2 separate regions of the Homo sapiens genome follow, and region 1 is linked to region 2. The links come from fine-mapping of genetic effects on gene expression. A gene starts in region 2. The other region holds a variant in brackets. All regions are shown on one strand. Distances are between the middles of the regions. Region 1 overlaps RANBP10 (RAN binding protein 10). Region 2 holds the start of CES2 (carboxylesterase 2).

What was found. PIP is the estimated chance that this variant, and not a neighbour inherited with it, causes the effect.
Region 1: its variant is the best candidate, but not a certain one, in a credible set for the expression of CES2 in visceral fat (GTEx, PIP 0.59).

What each region holds. Positions count from the first base shown.
Region 1 is chr16:67,796,035-67,798,940 of GRCh38, forward strand. All of the region lies in intron 2 of RANBP10 (RAN binding protein 10), which reads right to left. Among named protein-coding and RNA genes, the nearest start is that of RANBP10, 9.1 kb to the right of the region's middle. The variant G/A (reference allele first, on the strand shown) is at 1,709.
Region 2 is chr16:66,934,046-66,936,901 of GRCh38, forward strand. It overlaps CES2 (carboxylesterase 2), which reads left to right and starts at 1,471. Exons shown (of 12, transcript NM_001365405.1): 1 at 1,471-1,666. The coding sequence starts at 1,591. It overlaps CIAO2B (cytosolic iron-sulfur assembly component 2B), which reads right to left and starts at 357. Exons shown (of 5, transcript NM_016062.4): 1 at 178-357; 2 at 1-21. The coding sequence starts at 319. RefSeq lists enhancers at 1-12, 43-242, 1,081-1,693.

The sequences.
Region 1 (2,906 bases), 860 kb after region 2:
GCCTCCTGAGTAGCTGGGATTACAGGCGCCTGCCACCATGCCCAGCTAATATTTTTTACTTTTAGTAGAGACAGGGTTTCGCCATGTCGGCCAGGCTGGTTTCAAACTCCTGACCTTGTGATCCGCCTGCCTCGGCCTCCCAAAGCGCTGGGATTACAGGTGTGAGCCACAGCACACAGCCTATTTTGATTTTTATAAAAGTAAATATAACTACTGACAAACTACTGGTGCAAGTTGTTATAAAAACAGGGCATTCCATTTTTTTAAAAAGTCCATGCCAATTTCAGATACATGGCTTTATAAACTGGGTTAGAATCAGTTCTACTCAGCAATCCAACCCCTCTGTTTCTTTCCTCTTGGTTCAGCTCTGCCTTGGGACTCTCCTTTAGAAGAAATAAGCTGAGCCCTCAACCATCTGGGCCTCTATCCACTTATCTTCCAACCACCTCCACCCTGAGGGCTAGTAGATTTCATCTCATGATGAAACTCTGACCAGTAAATTATAGCTGCCTGATGTGCTGTGCATTGAGAAAAATTCTGGGCTCTGTCTGGACAAGAACAAGTGCTACTGTCAATCAGTAATGTTGGTCATAGAAGCTGAGGGTATTGTGGGGTATTGGGGCCTTCACACTTGCCACCCCTGACCTAAACTAAACTCCCCTGAAACCCCAAGCATCTCTAATTCCAAGAGTTAAGTAACAAGAAATGGCATAAGAGGGGTGCCAAGGGCTTCCCCAGTCCCCTCCCAACTTCCCTATATAGTACAGAGCATCTTGTTCTGGCCCCTTCATGACAGAAGGGCTAGGCTCTGTTCCACCACCAAGTCACAACACCAACGATCCTAGAATTACAAAGACATTTTATATGGATTTTGAACAGAATGGAGAGGCAGAGGAACATCTTTGCATTTAGACATAATTATCCATCCCTCTTCCACTGATGAGTCCCTTCTTTCCAACTTGACCCGACCACACAAGACCCACTCTGGAGCCCTTTATTCCTTCCCAATGGTCCCATAATAGGAATGGCACACAGTGCCTGCCACATGGGGCTGCTAGGTTCATCCTCCTGTGCTCTGGCCTGATGAGCTTCTGCTTCTCTTCTAACAAGGAATCTCCCTTACACCATGACCCATACAGGGAAAAGACCAAAAGTTCCAGAGAACAAAAACACCATCAAGGCAGAAAGGCAGGAGGTGAAGTGAATTCTAGGAATTTCTCTAAAAGCTAATCCTTGACCAAGAAGGCCCCAGCTATAAAGAAGGCAACGACGCTCCCCACTCTCAGCTCACAGTTGGAGCCTGGGTAGCAACATACAGTGAGGAGGGAGGCCCTACCAGAAAAGTGGCCACAGGCCAGGTGTGGTGGCTCATGCCTGTAATCCCAGCACTTTGGGAGGCTGAGGCAGGAGGATTGATTGAGCGTAGGAGTTCCAGACCAGCCTAGGAAATATAGCAAGACCCTGTCTCTACAAAAAATTTAAAAATTAGCCAGGGCTGGGGATGGTGGCTCACACCCGTAGTCCCAGCACTTTGGGAGGCTGAGGTGGGCAGATCATTTGAGGTCAGGAGTTCAAAACCAGCCTGGCCAACATGGCAAAACCTCGTCTCTACTAAAAATACCAAAATTAGCCAGGTGTCATGGCACACGCCTGTAATCCCAGCTACTCAGGAGGCTGAGGCATGAGAATCACTTGAACCCTGGGAGGC[G/A]GAGGTTGCAGTGAGCCGAGATCACTCCACTGGACTCCAACCTGGGTGACAGAGCAACACTCTGTCTCAAAAAATAAATTAAATAAATAAAATAAAAATTAGCCAGGCATGATGGCATGCACCTGTAGTCCCAGCTACTCAAGAGTCTCAGGTAGGAAGATTGCTTGAACTCAGGAGGTCGAGGCTGCAGTGAGCCATGATTGTGCCACTGCACTCCAGCCTGAGTGACAGAGAGAGACCCTCTCTCAAAAAAAAAAAAAAAAAAAAAAGCAAAGAACAGTGGCCACCATCTAGACTCCAGTTCTCTTACCCCGTGTTCCAGAACCCAAACATCCTACCCTGTGTTCCAGAACCCAAACATTCCATGTCTCCACAAATAGCACAATGTGTTACCTGAGTAGAAGTGCAGCCCAAAGCTCAGCATCTGCCTGTAAGACCATCAACTCCGGGGGGCAGTAAGGGAAAATGGGGCACAACCACGGCCTGTACCTACCTTGGGCAAGGACAGCACCTTCTTATCAGGGCGGGCAGGACAACGCCTTCCCCAGATGACATATGAGCACCAAAGTTCTCAACAGCACTGTACAATGCATGTAGACTGGAACTTGGTGAGGGGATCCAGGGTGAGAAGCCAGCCACAGCTGTCTCTCAGCTGGAAGGGCCTAAGCTTAGATGGTCCTCCACACCAGGAATGTGGCAGGTGAGATCTTAATCAAGATATCTTAATTAACAGTGGCTCTCTAGGTCTCCATGGAAAATCACTTTGGCTGATTCTGGCTCACCAGAGGAGATGCTTGGGTATAAAACATGGGGCATTACTGTCTTTCAGATGGGAGCTGGCAAAACCAAAATACCAGAACTCCAGCACAAGCAGAGTCCTCTCACCTCTGAGAAGCCTCCTGGCTACCAGTCTTTCACACCCCATCCCTTCATCTCTTCATACCAAAGGAACAGCCAAGAGAAAAAAAGACAACCGCTATGAGAAAACCATGCTAGAGCCAAAGACCTAAAGTCACTGGCCCACCCTGGACAAGGGCTCTTGGCCAGAGAAGCCTGGCTGAACCAGACTGGCAGAGTCTCTTCTTTTCTTCACTCTCAAAAGCATGGGTAGATCCACAGCCCCCCACACTGCTACTGCCCTCAAGATACAGCCCACGCTCCCTGGCCACAGCATACAAGGTATTTTCTTTTTTATTTT
Region 2 (2,856 bases):
CATTGATGGAGCGAATCAGATGTGGGAAGTGAAGGAAAAGGGACTCTGCGCCCTTGCCCACTTAGAACCCTCTGCCAGGAACGCCCTGCTGGGATGCGGCTCCACCAGCTGCTCGATATCACTGCTCCCCCCACCGCAAGCCCCCGGAACCCGCCCGCGCCCAGCAGCGGCGGATATCGAAGATCTCGCGTGCGTCGATGCTGTCGGGAACCTGCTCGTCCTCCTCGCCTGCCGTCACAGGCCGCTCCCCAGAGCGCTGGTAGATGAGGGGGTTGGCATTCTCCAGGAGGCCGCCGCCGACCCCGCCGCCGCCTACCATCGCGGAACCACCACCGCTGATCCTAGCAGGCGTGCGCTTCCGCTCCAACCCGCGCACTTCCGGAGAACGGGAAGGGGGCGTGGCGTGGCGACGGAGTCGCGCGAGGGACACGCCGCGTTGTGGGTTCTCGGCCTGAGGTGCGAGAGAAGCGGTGACCGCGGCCCTGGCTGCTCGGACCCGGGAACATGATGGTCGCTGGAGCAGAAGGCGCTGAGAAGGGACCACGGCGGCGCTGGGTCGTGCGAGCCAGTAGCGGGCTGAAACGTAGAGGCCAGAACCAGGTCTCAGGGGGCACTAAAGGCGGTCGGAGGTAATCCCCACACCGCTTCCTCCTGGAAGTCAGGCTGGCCGGGAGCTCCCGTATCCAGGACGGTTGGTCGCCTCTGGCCTGGCAGGGATCCTAGTGTCTCGGGACCTCCCGGTGACGCGCCTGCCTCCCCTGCTGCACCATAGGCCCGGGAGTACGGCGTCCCCACAGCTTGGACCGGCAGGGGCTCGTGAAATGTTTGTCAAGTGGATAAATGACCATGGCCGTGGTCTCCGCGGGAGGTGAGGAAACTGAAAGCCACCGAGGAAAAGGGGGGCGCTCCTTAAGAAGTGCCGCGGTCACGTGTACGTTTCAAAAGAATGGCGTGACTGAGTAGGGAGGGGACCGCGGAGACCCTCAGACCCTGGACTGTAAGGAGATGAGGGGCCGTGAAGGGGAACCCAGGAAACTGAGTCCTGAAAGCAAGGAGGAACTTCCAGAATGAAGGGCGCCGACACTCCTTCCTGCCTTTGCTCAAGCGGTTCCTTCACCCCGATCAAGTTCCTTCCCATTTCTCCATCTGGGGGATCCTGAACGTGCACATCCTCAGAGAAGCCCTCCTGGGGTCTCCAATTCTAGTTTATTGCCCCCTCCTATCGATCCCCCAGCGCGCTCATCGGGCCTGTGGACAAGGACAGGTTTGAAGAGAGGATTCCCTGGATCGCGGAAGGGCTGCAGGAATGGCACAGCCCCTTCCGAGGATGCCAAAGGAGCCCGGGCAAAGGAAAGTGGCCGTGCCCGGGCCTGCCTACCACTAGATCCCCACCCACCTATGACTGCTCAGTCCCGCTCTCCTACCACACCCACCTTTCCCGGCCCAAGCCAGCGCACCCCGCTGACTCCCTGCCCAGTCCAAACTCCAAGGCTGGGCAAGGCACTGATCCACTGCTGGACAGACCCGGGGCAGCCTCTGGGTGAACAGCAGCGTGTCCGCCGGCAGCGAACCGAGACCAGCGAGCCGACCATGCGGCTGCACAGACTTCGTGCGCGGCTGAGCGCGGTGGCCTGTGGGCTTCTGCTGCTTCTTGTCCGGGGCCAGGGTGAGGCTCCCTCGGAGGGGCGACAGGGACCGGGCTCAGATCTGCCAAATGCTGCGGAGGCAGAACCTGACAGTGCGGGAGGGCAGGCGCCTGGGAGGTAGGAGCTGGTGGAGATGACAGCGTGGAACTCGTGAGCCCCACGCAACGCCTCCCCGCCGCCCAAGGTGGGCTCCTAGAAGCACAGAAAGGGTCGGGCTGGGGGACACCACGGCAAGGAACCAGCGGAGTACAGGGGCCCCAGGAGCGCCGGGACATGCCAGGCCGGGTAGGCAGCCTGGGGTCGGAGTGGGTGAGGGATTGGGGTGTGGGGATTCAGTCCATTTCCCTCTTATGATTGTGGCTGTAGCGGGTGCTGCCGGCCGGTAATAACAGTAATAGCTTCTGGCAGCATCTGGCTCTCAGTGTGTGGCGTCCTTGGCCAGGGGGGATGCCCTGAGCCCTCCAAAGGGGCCTCAGACAAGGATAGTGGTCCTTGGGGAACAGAAGCCCCCAGGCGCCAAATCCTAAAGCAGATCTAAGAGGCCACAGTGGCTGGGTGCGATTGGCTCACTCCTTTAATCCCACCACTTTAGAAGGCCAAGGGAGAGTATCGCTTGTGCCCAGGAGTTGGAGGCCAGCCTGGACAACATAGTGAGACTCGGAGTGTACAAAAAATTGAAAGAAATTAGTGGGCTGTGGTGGTCTGTGACCTGTAGTCCCAGCTACTTGGGAGGCTGAGGTGGGAGATCACTTTAGTAGGGGAGGTTGAGGCTGCAGTGAGCCTTCATCCCACTACTGCACTCCAGCCTGGGTGAAAAAGCAAAAATCTGTCTCCAGAAACAAGAACCAAAGAGCTCGTGGTGTCCCTCATGCCATTTACCTCATCCTGGGCAAGGGCACAACTTGGCTTCCAGGGCAAAGGTGAAGGCTCTGTGTGCCTGCCAGGCTTCTCCAGGCCCTTATCAGAAGCTGGGGGAGTGTTTCGGCCTTTGGTCCTCTCACCCGAAACTCTCCTAAGTGTATGATCTGTCTCTTCCAACCCTTCCCCAATTTAATTTGCGCAGGTGGAGTCCATACTCCCCCCGCCCCATGGTGCACTGCTGCAGGGCTTCCTCCCGTGCCTGCCCTTGACCACATTCTAGAGTTCACCAGGAGCCCAGCAGGAAGATCTGCCTGGCCTCACAGATGGCTACCTTTTAAAATATTTTGGG